Regions from separate parts of the Homo sapiens genome. Here region 1 is linked to region 2. A link means that fine-mapping ties the variant in region 2 to the expression of a gene that starts in the linked region. Tissue or cell type: gastroesophageal junction. Region 2 holds a variant in brackets; the other region holds the start of a gene. All regions are shown on one strand. Distances are from middle to middle.

The links. PIP is the estimated chance that this variant, and not a neighbour inherited with it, causes the effect.
Region 1: PHAF1 starts here. The variant in region 2 is fine-mapped to the expression of PHAF1 in gastroesophageal junction (GTEx, PIP 0.98). The same link has a PIP of 0.9 or more in monocytes and monocytes after interferon gamma.

The regions. Positions count from the first base shown.
Region 1 is chr16:67,105,359-67,113,449 of GRCh38, reverse strand. PHAF1 (phagophore assembly factor 1) reads right to left here and starts at 3,509. Exons shown (of 16, transcript NM_025187.5): 1 at 3,211-3,509. The coding sequence starts at 3,274. RefSeq lists a silencer at 3,374-3,633 and enhancers at 3,193-3,934, 3,935-4,677.
Region 2 is chr16:67,144,407-67,152,497 of GRCh38, reverse strand. It overlaps PHAF1 (phagophore assembly factor 1), which reads right to left. Exons shown (of 16, transcript NM_025187.5): 12 at 7,621-7,664; 13 at 7,079-7,122; 14 at 6,870-6,928; 15 at 6,148-6,220; 16 at 3,954-5,453. The coding sequence ends at 5,367. B3GNT9 (UDP-GlcNAc:betaGal beta-1,3-N-acetylglucosaminyltransferase 9) reads left to right here and starts at 1,500. Exons shown (of 2, transcript NM_033309.3): 1 at 1,500-1,633; 2 at 1,827-4,394. The coding sequence starts at 2,013. The coding sequence ends at 3,221. RefSeq lists silencers at 1,545-1,704, 1,715-2,144. The variant T/C (reference allele first, on the strand shown) is at 4,402.

The DNA of each region.
Region 1 (8,091 bases), 39 kb after region 2:
AAAAGAAAAAAAGAAAACAAAACATTTCAAATCTGCACTGCCTTTACTCCACTGCTGGTCAAATCATCAGTGACATTCATATTCACAGAGATTCTGCTTGGCCTAGGTTTTCCTTTCCCTGTGTTGCTCGCATTTCCCTAATCATCCAACATTATACAACCAGGAAGGCAGCCAAGGAGCTGCCAGGATGCAGCTTCCCATTGTGATGCCAGGCAGATAATTGCATCTGCATTTGCACAGATTCCAATAAGAAACCTGGTGACAAAGTTGAGTCCACTTTCAGAAGGAAAGAGCAGTGGCATGCAGGATATGCCTGTTTGGCGACTTTTGTTTATCATCTCTCTCTCTGAGCCTGTCCCTCACCTGGCAAAAAGAGATAACAACACCTATCTTACAAGCCTGTGGTGGCAAGAGGTAAGTTCTTCCTGGTTCACTAGCCTAGGCATGTAATTCTAAAGCAGATTCCCTTCCGAGACCTATCCCTACCTAACAGCCCCAAATGTAGTTTGGACGTGTTCAGGGTGGGGGAGGAGATTGACAGAGGTGGAAAATGACTTTCCATTTTTAAAGTCTGATAAAGTTAAATTAACACCATCTCTCAGGCAGACACCATGTAAAAATGAATTTTAAGACCCAAGGGAATCATGAAGCCTCTGGGCCAGTCTATGAGCTTCCCCCTAAAATTCAATTCTTGACCCAATATACAGAAATGCCCTTCTCACTGTTTTTGGTTGCTATTTAGACAGTTTGTAAGAACTGTGTAAACCCTTGATTCCTGGGAAACTAGCAGAGCTAGGAGTCAGGGTTAGGGTATCAAAACAACAGCTGAGAGAAGCCTTGCTCTCTCACTCAGTTTTCTGGAAATCCTCATCTCAATTAATATCCTAGTAACTACTTTTTTTTTTTGTCTCCTTGAGACAGGGTCTCTCTCTGTCACCCAGGATCACGCCCAGTGGTGTGATCATGACCCACGGCAGCCTTGACCTCCCAGCCTCAAGTGATCCTTCCATCTCAGCCTCCCGAGTAGTTAAGACTACAGGCCTGGCTTTTTTTTTTTTTTTTTTTTTTGGTAGAAACGAGGTCTCACTATGTTGCCTAGGCTGGTCTTGAACTCCTGGCTTCAAGCTATCCTCCTGTCTCAGCTTCCCAAAGTGTTGGGATTACAGCCATGAGTTACTGCACCCAGTCCCTACCACTGCTTTTGACCAAGGGACTCTGAATACTTGTACCACCAAGAGATCCACAACCTAGTCACACTACTAAGCACAGTTTGAAGCTATGGTTGTGGTTTTTATCCAGCCGTGGGAGGATCTTGCTTGGGTAGAAGCTGTCAAGGAGAGGGGAGGAAAGGAGTTAACCAGAAGCCAAACAGCATTAGCATGGTATCACCAGCCTTCCAACCAAGCTCTTAGTGCTTCACGAGAGAATGGAGCATTTTGTACCAGCTAATATTTTGGAAAGAACTCTGCAGGAGTGGTGTTAAGTTATGAAAGAATTTGGCCAACTCCCCTAAATTAAACCGGCTTTTATGGTTGGGCATGGTGGCTCACACCTGTAATCCTAGCACTTTGGGAGGCCAAGGCGGATCACTTGAAGTCAGGAGTTCGAGACCAGCCTAGCCAACATGGCGAAACCCAATCTCTACTAAAAATACAAAAATTAGCCGGGTGTGGTGGCAGACGCCTGTAATCCCAGCTACTAGTAGGGAGGCTGAGGCAAGAGAATTGCTTGAACCCGGGAGGCAGAGGTTGCAGTGAGCCGATATTGTGCCACTGCACTCCAACCTGGGCAACAGAGTGACTCTGTCTTAAAACAAAACACCAACAACAAAAACTAGCTCTTACAACACACAGGACATATGTAGCCACTAAGCATCAGCAGGGCCTTACCAGCAATCTGTACCACCTGGTTTCTCCAACACACTGTCTCCACAGACATAAGTCTTCCAGAGTCAAGGATAATTTATAATCCAATGGAGCAGCTGATTTAGTCCAGTAGCTCACACTAGAGTGACTAAAGTTCAGGCCTGCACAAACAAACAGCACCAACACCTACCCCACCCCCTTTTCTTAGTGCTGGGACATCAAAGTAAACACACAGGGGTTACTGAATGCAAACATCCTTGTACACATAAAAGTAGTGATGCTGGAAATGGAGAGGGTGAAGGGAGAAGGCTGGGCCAGCAAACCCCAAAACGACCAAACTGCATTTTTTAGAAACTAAATGTTACTTCTCCCTAACTCCTATTTCATCCAACCTTCACCTGTCACAACTGAGGTCTGGGTTTAGGATTACAGCATCCGATACAGACTATATTTCAAAAGAGAGAGAAGCGGGGCCGGGTGCAGTGGCTCACGCCTGTAATCCCAGCACTTTGGGAGGCCGAGGTGGGCGGATCACGAGGTCAGGAATTCGAAACCAGCCAGCCTGGTCAACATGGTGAAACCTCGTCTCTACTAAAAATACAAAAATTAGCCGGGTGTGGTGGCGCGTGCCTGTAATCCTAGCTACTGGGGAGGCTGAGGCAGGAGAATCGCTTAAACCCACGAGGCGTTAAGTTGCAGTGAGCCAAGATCACGCAACAGCACTCCAGCCTGGGCGACAGAGCGAGACTTCGTCTCAAAAAAAAAGAAAAAAAAGAGAGAAGCAAGTCAGCTGTTCCTTTAATACACACAAACTCAACTCCCTTGACCAGAGCCCCAACATCTGATCATGGGTTCCAAGCCTAGGTTTCCCCTCCTAAAAAGGGGAAGGAAGCCACAGCCCAGAAAAGCAGTGGGAGACAGACCACAGGCCACAGTGATGATCAGAGGGGTCAGCCACTTCTCAGCCATTATTTAGTCTGTAAAATGGAAATGGGAATAACAACAGTACCTATCCTCAGGTGCCGGCGAGGGGTACTAGAGAGAATTACGTCCAAAAAGAGCAGGGCCGGGCATTAGGCATTTGGGGAGAGCAAGCTATTATTGTCTTTACTACTACTGTTCCACCGTCCCAGAAGAGACCCTGCTGAGACCCGAGACGAGCAACTGACAGGCAAATCGGGCCAGTTGGAGCGGGTATCTAGTGCCTGGAGCCCAGCGAGCCGAGAGGACGAAAGAGGTGAGGAGCTGCGGGCGCAGGGGCGTGAGAGACTGAGAACAGGTGGGAAGAGCCCAGGAGAAAGCAAGGATCAGCGAATGGGGTCCTGACAGAGGACCCCAAACTCACCCAGCGTGAATTCCCATTGCTCGTTCCCCAGAGAGCGTTCGGGCACTACCTCCAGGTCCAGCATTGGTTCGGCTCGCCTGGCCCGGGCGGCCTCCCTGCGGCAGCGCAGAAGGGACCCGAGCTAAGGAGACAAAGCAGCGGCTGACAGGCCGCCCCCGCCGGCCCGCCACAGCCCCGCTTTCCACCTCCTCCCCGGCGGCAGCGGCAGCAGCACCGGCCCAACACCACACCTCACCTCACTTCACCTCACCTGCAGCAGCCGCGGCAGCGGGGGCAACGACGGCGGCGGGCGCGACTGCAGTAAAAGTGGCGTGCCGGGCCGTAAAGCGCGGGGAGGGCCGGGCGAAGGCGGGAGTGCCAGCGCGAGGGAGGAGCCTGGGGCGGAGCCGCGCACGCGCAAACTGCGGGTCCCGCCGCCGTCTCTGCGGAGGCTGAGTCGGGCAGGGCTGTAACGTTGGGAACTGTTCGGGCTCTAGGAGCAAGGAGCCCAGTACTTCGTGAGCCCCTACATCTGTGCACCACAGCACACACACTTCACATATCTACATAAAGAAGGGTTCACCACACAACACACACGTCACACAGCTGCACAAGACCCGTCTGCTGTCTACACACACGTCCCACTCACGTTCACTGGTAGCAGAAGGCAAGTACAGAGGGCACGCTGAGGCCCAGCAGGAGGGAGGACGCGGAGTCCCTAAGCCTCACGGCCCCCACCGTCTCCGTTGGGGCCGGAGGTGACGCTGGCCGCAGCAGCTTTTAGTTGTTCAGGAATGACGGCCCCACCCAGTCGCCCCTGGGGCAAGGGTCGAACCGTAAGCGAGTGAGGACTGTGGGCGTTAGGGGTCGGAATTGGTTCGGGGAGAGGACTGGGTAGAAGAGGAAGGGGCCAGGCCAGGCCTCCCTGCTGACCACATCCAAATGTGCGCAGTCCCCCGGGACCAGGATCCGAAGCCGCCGGCAGCAGCGTGGACCAAAGCTGTGGGGGTCTTGATCAACCCCTTGGCGCTTTCTGTGCCACAGTTTTCCTAATCTGCAAGGGACAGGAAGGTTCCTCTAGCAGGTTCAGCCTGAGGTTTTGGCCCGTGCCCCGGGACACCCTGAAACTAAAGGACAGCCGAGGCCTATGCTGATGCCAAGCCTTCACGGAGGCAGTCTCTGGGTTCTCACAACCAACCTGAGATGCGAGATTATACCGACTTTACATAGGCGAATACATGAGGCCCAGAGATGTTAAAGACCCAAGGCTCCTTGGTTCTAGGCGCAGAACCCAAGTCCTTTCCATTACATTGCCCCTGGAAGAAGGTTTTCAGTAGGGGAGAGAGTGGCATACTAAATTCTCAAACTGGCTTGATACTAGCGTTTCTTTGGAGGCTCTATCAAAATTTGAAGTCGCTGTTTGATTAAAATGAACTACATGGAGAAGGTTGTCCACTGCAGCATTGTATGCCAAAACAACAGAACTGGGTCACTGAGATGTCCAGTAGGGAAGTGGCTAAATAAACCGTGATATAGATAGATAGATAGATAGATGATAGATAGATAGATAGATAGATAGATAGATAGATAGATAGATAGAGATATGTTTTTAAAGGTGAATGCTGAGAGCAGTGCTCACAGCGGTAATACCAGCACTTTGGGAGGATGAGGTGGGAGGATCGGTTGAGCCCGGGAGTTGAGACCAGCCTGGGCAACATAGCAAGACCCAGTCTCTATTAAAAAAAAAAATTAGCTGGTGTCATGGCAGTAGGTTGGGCCAGGAGTCCTAGCTACTCAAGAGGCTGAGAGGTGGGAGGATAGCTTGAGGATAGCTGCAGTGAGCTGTGATTATTGAGCCCCGGGGCTCCAGCCTGGATGACAGAGCAAGATCCTGTCTCTAAATAAATAAATAAATAATAAAAAGTGAAGTAGGTCTCTATGTTGATGTGGAAGGAACTCCAAGAGAAAAAAGCCAGGTGCAGAAGTATGCATACCATGACCACCCACCACCCCCCTCCCCCGGCCTTTTTTTCTGTAAAAACAAAAATAAAAGAAACAGTGGCTGTACCAAAAAGAAAGAACATTTCTGGAAAAATAAAACATTGTCAATCATACCTAATAGAGTGGCAGAGGACAGGAATCAGGGGGTCATTATTCCTTATCATGACAAGCATTAAAGATATGTTTAGAAAAGCCTAGTTGGGCAGCTGGGCTAGATAGCTTGGGAAGGAAATCTGGGGAAAAATCTTAAGATTGGTGAGGAGCAATCTTAGTCAATTAAAAGTGTCTGGCTGGGCGCGGTGGCTCACGCCTGTAATCCCAGCACTTTGGGAGGCCGAGGCAGACAGATCACCTGAGGTCAGGAGTTTGAAACCACCCTGGCCAACATGGTGAAAACCCGTCTCTACTAAAAATAGAAAAAATAGCTAGGTGTGGTGGTGCATGCCTGCAGTCCCAGCTACTTGGGAGGCTGAGGCACGAGAATCACTTGAATCCAGGAGGTAGAGGTTGCAGTGAGCCAATTATCACCCCACTGCATGCCAGCCTGGGCAACAGAGCAAGACTCTCTCAAAACTTGGAGGGGACTTATTTCTGGAGGAGAAAGATGGGTGGGGCCTAAATTGGGGTGGGATAAGCCCAGTGGGGTTGTGGGATAAGCCCAGTGGGGTTGTACCAGAGGCAAGACAAAGAAGAAACCACATCATTCTGGATAACAAAGTGAAAAGGATTTCTAATTTGGGTAACCCCCAAACAGAAAGAACAAAGTTGTCGGGGAGCGCCCTAAGAAATTCCCTGTTGGAATAGTAGGCAGATTTCTGTGAACAATGTTAGTCAACAACAAAAGTTTATCTGGCCAGGTGTGGTAACTCATGCCTATAATCTCAGCACTTTGGGAGGCTGAAGTGGGAGGATTGCTTGAGGCCAGGAGCTTGAGACCAGCCTGGGCAATATAGCAAGACCCCGTACACACACACACACACACACACACACACACACACACACACACACACGCCAGATGTGGTGGCACATGCAGGTAGTCCCAGCTACCCAGGAGGCTCAGGTGGGAAGACCACTTAAGCCTGGGAGTTTTGTTGTTGTTGTTGTTGTTGCTTTTTGTTTTTGTTTTTGAGACGGAGTCTCGCACTCTCGCCCAGGCTGGGGTGCAGTGGCGCCGTGGCGCCATCTTGGCTCACTGCAAGCTCCGCCTCTCGGATTCACGCCATTCTCCTGCCTCAGCCTCTCGAGTAGCTGGGACTACAGGGGCCCGCCACCACGCCCGGCTAATTTTTTGTATTTTTAGTAGAGACGGGGCTTCACAGTGTTAGCCAGGATGGTCTTGATCTCCTGACCTTGTGATCTGCCCGCCTCGGCCTCCCAAAGTGTTGGGATTACAGGCGTGAGCCACCGCGCCCGGCCGAGCTTGGGAGTTTGAGGCTGCAGTGAGCTATGTACTGCACTCCAGTACAGCCTAGGCAACAAAAGAATGAGACTGTATCTCTAAAAAAATAAACAGAAGTTTATCTTTGCTCATTTAATGTTGATTCACCCAGGTTTTTATCCAAGGTGGGAATAACAGCTTTGGGATGGTGATATTAGGAGGCCTTGGCCCAGAGCCCAATACACACACACACAATAGAAGCAGAAGGTGCCTGGCAGGAGCAGGCCAACTCAGGAGAATGTCAGCTACAGCCATTCCCCCAAACTGAGGGTAGGGATGTTCAGAAATATGGAATTGGCTAATGAAAAGCATATTCAGGGAGGGCAAGTAGTCATGGTAGCAGTCAAAGCCAGACATGCAGGGACAGCTTCAGGTCAGAACATGGTGATTAAGCTCAGGGACTCAAAATTTGAATCCCAGTTCTGCCACTTAATAGCTTTGTGCCTTGACAAGTTAATTAGCCTCTCCATGCCTTAGTTTCTTCTGTAAAATCTGTAACAATCTCACAGATTTGTTAGGAGGTCTGTACTTGTGTGTCTGGCTTACAGGTAATTGCTTTGTGTATAACTAAAATTTTAAAACATCTAATAGTAACAGAATTGATGGAATCCACTGGCAGGATTTACAGATTGCATGTGGGAGATGAGAGAGACTGGGAGTCAAGAATAACGACATAGTTTTCCCAGCTTGGGTAGCTGGAAGGACGGTGATTGGAGGAACTGACATTGGCGTTTGGAAGGATGTCAATCCTTCTGGTAAAACTGTCACGTGATAACTTGGAAGGGAAGAAATGTAACAAGCTTGAAACATTACTTGAAGAACTTGGAAAACAATCTTAGTACCATGGTTATTTATTAATTGCATTTGCCAAGTTATTTTTTTTTCTTTTTTTTTTTTGAGACGGAGTCTCACTCTGTTGCCCAGGCTGGAGTGCAGTGGTGAGATCTCGGCTCACTGCAACCTCCGCCTCCCAGGTTCAAGCGATTCTCCTGCTTCAGCCTCCCCAGTAGCTAGGATTACAGGCACGTGCCACCATGCCCAGCTAATTTTTGTATTTTTAGTAGAGACGAGGTTTCACCATGTTGGCCAGGCTGGTCTTGAACTCCTGTCTTTAGGTGATCCACCTGCCTCAGCCTCCTAAAGTGCTGGGATTACAGGTGTGAGCCACCGCGCCCAGTTAGATTTTTTTTTTTAAAGCCAGTTTGAAAGCAGGAATGACAGGTAATGTGTACAGCAAATGAGGGATGGGGCTAAAAGTCATGGAAAATGGTGGAGCAGGGAACCCATCCTAATAGGCCTTACAAAGAACACTCCCCTCTGTTAGGGCAGAGGGCCCTCAAATGGTTTCCAGTGTCATTTCATAATTGTTACTGACCGGTGACTTCATTCTTCCCCTTTCTGAAGGCAAGTGCTTCCTGCAATTTTTCTGTCCCTGTCCCACCACTGTGTACTGGGTGCGTAGA
Region 2 (8,091 bases):
TGTTGGCCAGGCTGGTCTCAAACTCCTGGCCTCAAGTGATCCACCTGCCTTGGCCTCCCAAAGTGTTGGGATTACAGGAGTAAGCCACCACGACTGGCCTTTTTTTTTTTTTGAGACAGTCTCGCTCTGTTGCCCAGGATGGAGTGCAGTGGTGTGTTCTTGGCTCACTGCAACCTCCACCTTCCAGGTTCAAGCAATTCTCCTGCCTCAGCCCTCTAAGTAGCTGGGATTACAGGTGCCCACCACCATGTCTAGCTAATTTTTGTATTTTTAGTAGAGATGGGGGTTTCACCACGTTGGCCAGGCTGGTCTTGACTTCCTGACCTCAAGTGATCCACTCACCTCAGCCTCCCAAAGTGTTGAGGTTACAGGCATAAGCCACCACACCCAGCCAGAGAGGTGGCTTTTTAAGATTGAACATTGGTGGGAAGAAGCCGTCAGGAGCAGATATAGCCCTTGGACAGAGGATGGGGCTGGGTTCTTAAGAGACCAGTAGAGGCTGTCTATTCCAGGCTCCACCACATGGGCTGGGACCAAGAAAGAGAGAGCTGGCAGCTGAGCTGCGCAAGGACTTAGCTCTCCATTGCAGAGCACCTCTGTCCACCTGCATCCCAGAGCAATCCTTTAGCCAAGGCCTCCGCCAGGAGTCTTCCCAAGCTGTCCCCATCCTTGCCAGCCCTGTCTGACCTGCAGCTGCACAGGCCTGATCATTTCTACCTGCAGTAGGCTATGCTGGGGACCAGGGGACTCAGAACTGCACCTGGCTTGGGCTCAGGTCCATTAGCCCCCGGGGAGACAGGCTGAAGTGCTTGCCTGTGAAATTAAAGCAGACTGGGTTGGCCCCCTGTTCTGTATCCCAGTGGATGAATGAGCGGGGCAAGGACAGATAAAATAATCCTGGCCTGAATTTCAGAAGACCTGGGGGCAGAGCTTTCTGGCCTTTGGATCCTGGGCAAGTCACTTAACTCCCCGAAGAGCCCCCCAGTGTCCCCATCTGGGCATGAATGAGAGCTGCTGGCAGAGTTGCCCTGAGGATTGGGTGGGCTGCCTTGTTTGTCCCGTGCGTGTGTTTACTGGGGGTGGGGAGCATGGCAGAACCAGGAGTAAGAAGACAGCCATGTGTCTCGGGGGCAGCGTATGCACCCTGCCTGATGGAATCAGGGCTGCTGAGGAGAGGCCCGCCCGGGATGGTGGCCAGGTTCATGCGCATTTGGAACCGGCCTGCTCAGGGGCTCCTAGCAGCCCAGGCTCCGCCCCACTCCAGAGACGCGGGAGTGGGGAGTGGATAGTTGGGGGAGCTAACCAGGGGAGTTGATGCTTCTTCCCAATCCCCAGAAAGGCGAATTTGGGGTGTGAGCACCCAGACCAGCCCTTCCCAGAGGGACTGAGAGTGAGGAGGCTCCCTCTCAGGGATTAGTCCCCACTCTGAGGCCGGAGTGCTCCTGGCGCCGGGGCGGAGCTGAGCTCCAGAAGTCTGGGCGCGCACAGCTGGAGGGTCACGTGGCACGGCACCGGTCCCCCTTCCTGCCAACGCTGCATTTGGCTCGGGCCCGGTCCATGGCGGCCCCTCGGACCCTGCGCTGAGCCCCGGAGGCCAGGGCGTCCGGGGCTGCGCCACTTCCGAGGGCCGAGCGTGAGTGTCGGGACCCCAGGGCCCGACATTGAGGGGATGGCAGGGTGGAAGGGATTCGGCCTCAGCGCGAGGGAGGCGGGCGGGGGAGGGGCCGAGGCTCCCAGTCTCCCTGCCCGGCCCTGGGTCGCAGTCCTGGGCCGGAGCTGAGGCCGCGGGGGAGTTGGCTACATGGGTGAACTTCTTGTCCCTTCAGGCTGCCGGTCCCGGCGGTGCGACACGGCCGGGAGGAGGAGAACAACGCAAGGGGCTCAACCGTCGGTCGCTGGAGCCCCCCCCGGGGCGTGGCCTCCCGCCCCCTCAGCTGGGGAGGGCGGGGCTCGCTGCCCCCTGCTGCCGACTGCGACCCTTACAGGGGAGGGAGGGCGCAGGCCGCGCGGAGATGAGGAGGAGGCTGCGCCTACGCAGGGACGCATTGCTCACGCTGCTCCTTGGCGCCTCCCTGGGCCTCTTACTCTATGCGCAGCGCGACGGCGCGGCCCCGACGGCGAGCGCGCCGCGAGGGCGAGGGAGGGCGGCACCGAGGCCCACCCCCGGACCCCGCGCGTTCCAGTTACCCGACGCGGGTGCAGCCCCGCCGGCCTACGAAGGGGACACACCGGCGCCGCCCACGCCTACGGGACCCTTTGACTTCGCCCGCTATTTGCGCGCCAAGGACCAGCGGCGGTTTCCACTGCTCATTAACCAGCCGCACAAGTGCCGCGGCGACGGCGCACCCGGTGGCCGCCCGGACCTGCTTATTGCTGTCAAGTCGGTGGCAGAGGACTTCGAGCGGCGCCAAGCCGTGCGCCAGACGTGGGGCGCGGAGGGTCGCGTGCAGGGGGCGCTGGTGCGCCGCGTGTTCTTGCTGGGCGTGCCCAGGGGCGCAGGCTCGGGCGGGGCCGACGAAGTTGGGGAGGGCGCGCGAACCCACTGGCGCGCCCTGCTGCGGGCCGAGAGCCTTGCGTATGCGGACATCCTGCTCTGGGCCTTCGACGACACCTTTTTTAACCTAACGCTCAAGGAGATCCACTTTCTAGCCTGGGCCTCAGCTTTCTGCCCCGACGTGCGCTTCGTTTTTAAGGGCGACGCAGATGTGTTCGTGAACGTGGGAAATCTCCTGGAGTTCCTGGCGCCGCGGGACCCGGCGCAAGACCTGCTTGCTGGTGACGTAATTGTGCATGCGCGGCCCATCCGCACGCGGGCTAGCAAGTACTACATCCCCGAGGCCGTGTACGGCCTGCCCGCCTATCCGGCCTACGCGGGCGGCGGTGGCTTTGTGCTTTCCGGGGCCACGCTGCACCGCCTGGCTGGCGCCTGTGCGCAGGTCGAGCTCTTCCCCATCGACGACGTCTTTCTGGGCATGTGTCTGCAGCGCCTGCGGCTCACGCCCGAGCCTCACCCTGCCTTCCGCACCTTTGGCATCCCCCAGCCTTCAGCCGCGCCGCATTTGAGCACCTTCGACCCCTGCTTTTACCGTGAGCTGGTTGTAGTGCACGGGCTCTCGGCCGCTGACATCTGGCTTATGTGGCGCCTGCTGCACGGGCCGCATGGGCCAGCCTGTGCGCATCCACAGCCTGTCGCTGCAGGCCCCTTCCAATGGGACTCCTAGCTCCCCACTACAGCCCCAAGCTCCTAACTCAGACCCAGAATGGAGCCGGTTTCCCAGATTATTGCCGTGTATGTGGTTCTTCCCTGATCACCAGGTGCCTGTCTCCACAGGATCCCAGGGGATGGGGGTTAAGCTTGGCTCCTGGCGGTCCACCCTGCTGGAACCAGTTGAAACCCGTGTAATGGTGACCCTTTGAGCGAGCCAAGGCTGGGTGGTAGATGACCATCTCTTGTCCAACAGGTCCCAGAGCAGTGGATATGTCTGGTCCTCCTAGTAGCACAGAGGTGTGTTCTGGTGTGGTGGCAGGGACTTAGGGAATCCTACCACTCTGCTGGATTTGGAACCCCCTAGGCTGACGCGGACGTATGCAGAGGCTCTCAAGGCCAGGCCCCACAGGGAGGTGGAGGGGCTCCGGCCGCCACAGCCTGAATTCATGAACCTGGCAGGCACTTTGCCATAGCTCATCTGAAAACAGATATTATGCTTCCCACAACCTCTCCTGGGCCCAGGTGTGGCTGAGCACCAGGGATGGAGCCACACATAAGGGACAAATGAGTGCACGGTCCTACCTAGTCTTTCCTCACCTCCTGAACTCACACAACAATGCCAGTCTCCCACTGGAGGCTGTATCCCCTCAGAGGAGCCAAGGAATGTCTTCCCCTGAGATGCCACCACTATTAATTTCCCCATATGCTTCAACCACCCCCTTGCTCAAAAAACCAATACCCACACTTACCTTAATACAAACATCCCAGCAACAGCACATGGCAGGCCATTGCTGAGGGCACAGGTGCTTTATTGGAGAGGGGATGTGGGCAGGGGATAAGGAAGGTTCCCCCATTCCAGGAGGATGGGAACAGTCCTGGCTGCCCCTGACAGTGGGGATATGCAAGGGGCTCTGGCCAGGCCACAGTCCAAATGGGAAGACACCAGTCAGTCACAAAAGTCGGGAGCGCCACACAAACCTGGCTATAAGGCCCAGGAACCATATAGGAGCCTGAGACAGGTCCCCTGCACATTCATCATTAAACTATACAGGATGAGGCTGTACATGAGTTAATTACAAAAGAGTCATATTTACAAAAATCTGTACACACATTTGAAAAACTCACAAAATTGTCATCTATGTATCACAAGTTGCTAGACCAAAATATTAAAAATGGGATAAAATTATACATTT[T/C]TCTTCTCAGTTCTTTTCAAAAGGATTAATATTTTTAAAGCACATATATGCTACTTTCCATTAGCAAGACCCATGAAGGGACTGAGCAGCCCAGCCTTCCTTGAGCCCCCAGAGGCTTTGAGCCATGAAATGGCCCAGCCAGGGGCCAGTGCCCAGGGTTGGGGCAGAGAGCCAGCCCACAGTGCAGAACAGAATGCTGAAACACAACAAAAGTAGGAAGATGTCTTTGGCTAAAACTTTGGCATTAAATAAAAGAGGCAAACAGGATGGAAACATGCAGCCCTGCCAGCCAGGATGGGGCAGAGCAGGGGCACAGGCAATCTTGAAAGCTGACTCCAACAGGGGTGAGAACCAGGCCTGGGCATGTACCTGGATGGTAGAAAGCTGTGTTTCAACCAGTTTGGTGTGCCCAGGCAGGGAGCGCGTGCAAGAAAGGAACAGGGAAGGGCAGGTGGGCCACCCTGGCCACAGCCAGCTCATCAAGTAACTAAAGTGGATGTAGTGCAAATGTCGCAACCAAGTACTATGGACACGCTACCTGCTTGCCTTAAGGGTCATGTGGCAATGTGGAGCCAAAGGCAGGACCTTGTCCTTATCCTGGGTGCCTGTGTCCTCAGTCACAGAAAGAGCCCCAAGTCTTCCCAATGTGCATGGGACAAGGGTTGACCTCTCCTGCCTCCTTGTTAGTTGAGAGCTCCTGGGTCCAGGAATCAAGGCTCAAACTTTGTGCTTCTCTTTGCAGTCTGTGTCCCCTGCTGGCACCAGCAGGCCAAAGATGGACAGAAGAATATCTGGGCCACTCAGCCCATGGCAGAGCACCCAGCCTGAGCCCAACCTCAGAACATCACAACAGCCCTTCAGCACTGGCCAGGTGTCCAAGAAAACCCACAGGGTGGTACAGAGGCCCACTGAGCAGGATGTGATGCACAGTTCCACGGGACAGAGGGGCATGGGTGGTGGTGTCCCTAGGGGAGTTCCGCTGTTCTCAGGTGGCTACCAGGCCTGGGGGGGCCATACAGGGTCACCGAGGCAATGTGGTTGTTCTGCATGACCTGGTGTGAGAAGAGGACAGTGGGTCAAGGGGGAGAGGTAAAGGGATGTAGGCAGATCCTGTGCATGAGGGCTGGAGGTTGTGTGACATACCTGCACCTAATGGCTGGGTTTCCCGACTCCTCAACCTCCCCTGGTTCATGCTAAAGGCCCCCCTCTGCCTGAGATCTGCCTGTTTCTCAATGGTTACACACAGCCTTTACCATGGCCACGTGTCCAGTCCTTCTGGAACTGTTAAGTGTCTGCTGGAGATACTGCATCCACAGGGAAAACAAGGGCAGCTTGCTGTTCTCCCAAGTCAGCAGGGCCTCCAGAGCCACTCACTCCCCTACAATGCATTTGTTCACATGCCACTGGAGGGCCCCCAACACCCTCTGCTGGGCCCCACTTGCCCTGTGGTTCCCTTCCCTGCTATAATCATGTTGTCAGATAGAAACTTGGGATCCGTTACCTCCCATCTTGTTGGACACAGACCACTGCTTCGGCCTCTGTGACCCCAGATTTCTCAACATCATTTCTGAACCTTCATTGTTAAGTGTGGGGAGGCCAGGTATGCAGCAGACACGGTTGCTGAAGAAGGATGAATCTGCCCACTATGGCAGTGATGCCCTCCCCAATTTCCCTCCATCATTCACCTGGCCCTGCCATGACCAGCAACCCCCCAGGCAGTTTATTTCTAGGGCTTCCACAGCTTACCTCAAAGATCATTCGCTGAAGACCAAAGCAGAATGTGGAACCAAATGGGTTGGTGTTGTTTGGGGAGGAAGACCTGAGGCCAAAGAATTCAGAATTAGAGAGGCAGACAGAGGCCACGGCCTTAAAGCAAGGGATCCAGTCTTTTCTGGGGTATGGGATACTGGCCAGTAGTCTCTCATGGCTGTGAGTGTCTGTCTGTTTCCCACACAGGCCTGCAAGATCCTAGGGGTAGGGATGGTCTCACTCAACTCAGAATTATACATACAGAGCCCAACAGGACAAAAAAGTTACTGTGGAACTGGACTAGGGTGGCGAGGAGTCAAGAGGGCCCTCTTGAGTGAGAGAATCTCAGGCAGCATGGCAACCAGGAACGGGGCTGTGGACTTCAGCAGGCAGCAGCTCAAAGCTCAAAGGGAAAAAGAGCCCAGGCCAGCCAGCCAAGCCCTCCTTCCTTATTGAATAACTGAGGGTGAGAAGGCCCCCATACCTAGAGGTAGGCTTGGGAGAGGGGAGCTACCCCTGGGGACATTCTCTCTATCAAAGATGAACACACAGAACAGTTGACTCAGTCCTAATGTGCAGAGTGGGGCAGGAAGTATGCTTGTGGCAATATCAGAAACTTCTGTAATTTTTAAGCAACATCCACTGTGCCAGGCTTCCCTGGGCTTTCTGGGCTCTGAGGAGTCAGGTGGGGTGGCCGGGGACATCAAACTCCCACTCACCTGTGCAGGACAACAGGCTTCTCCACAGGGTGGCCCAGGAGCTCCTGGATGTTGTCCCACTGCAAGAGGGATAGAGGGGAGCAGGGGTTAGTAGGGACATGAACATGTCTGTGACCAATGGCTGGCCTAGAGGACACAGCCCCATACTGCCTGCAGGCTCATGTCCACCTCATTCTCAGGCTATGCCAGGTAGGAAGATAGGTGCTCACCTTGCTGTAGGTCGTGCATGTTTCTGTCTGACCATCTGCGTTTTCTGAAAAGAGAAGACAGTGGGGCAGATTTGTAGCTGGCCCAGCCTACCTGTGGCCCCAGCCCTAGGTAGGAACCAGACCTGGTGTCCCTTTGCACTGGGGTTGGAGTACATGGGGAGGATTAACAGGCTGTTTTGGAGTTCCAGGGTGGAAGAGGATGGAGGGGTGAAGGGAGGTCAGTCAGGTGTGAGCAACAACAATTGGCAGTGGGTGGCAGGCAACAAGGATGGGCTGGGGCCCCCTGGATGATCATCTGTAGATAAGAAACTCTCCCCTCCAGAGGCCGGCAATCCCACAGTCATAGGAAGAGGCCTCAAGGGCCTCTAGGAGACTCAGACCAAGAACACTGCAGCCCCCAGAACAATGAGCCCACCCCAGAGGAACTGAGGCCATGGGCAGAAGCTCCACACATCCAACCACTGCTTCGATCTTTCTCCCTTTTCATAGTGGAAAACAGACTCTAAAACCCCTCCCTTACCCTGAGAGCTTTCACTACTCACCTTTCTTTATGGCTAGTGGGATCTTGAACTCACAGCGATGATAACTAGAGAGAAGGCAAATGGGTAAAGGCTGGGCCTCCTAGAAGGCCTGGCCACTCCCATATTCCAACCCCACACCCCAGGAGAAACAGAACCAAACACACCTGCCCAAAGCCCTGGCTCTGAGTGCCTGACAGTGTTCACTGGGGGAGGCCAGATTTAGGCACGGAAGTCGAACAGAAAAGATCTTGGCCCTGGGTTCTGGAGAGCCTATTACCTTGGATAAGACATCAAGCTTTCTGAACTTATTTCCCTATTTGTAAAATGGGTTCAAACAGAGAGATGTAAGGCATTGGACCCTGTGCCAGGAACACAGCAAGCACTCAGGAAATTCACTTCCCATGAAACAGCAAGAATTCAGGTGTAGATAAATTAGTGAACACCCAAAGCCAAAAGCTCTTTCCTGGGGTTTTCAGCCCAAAACTCACTTCA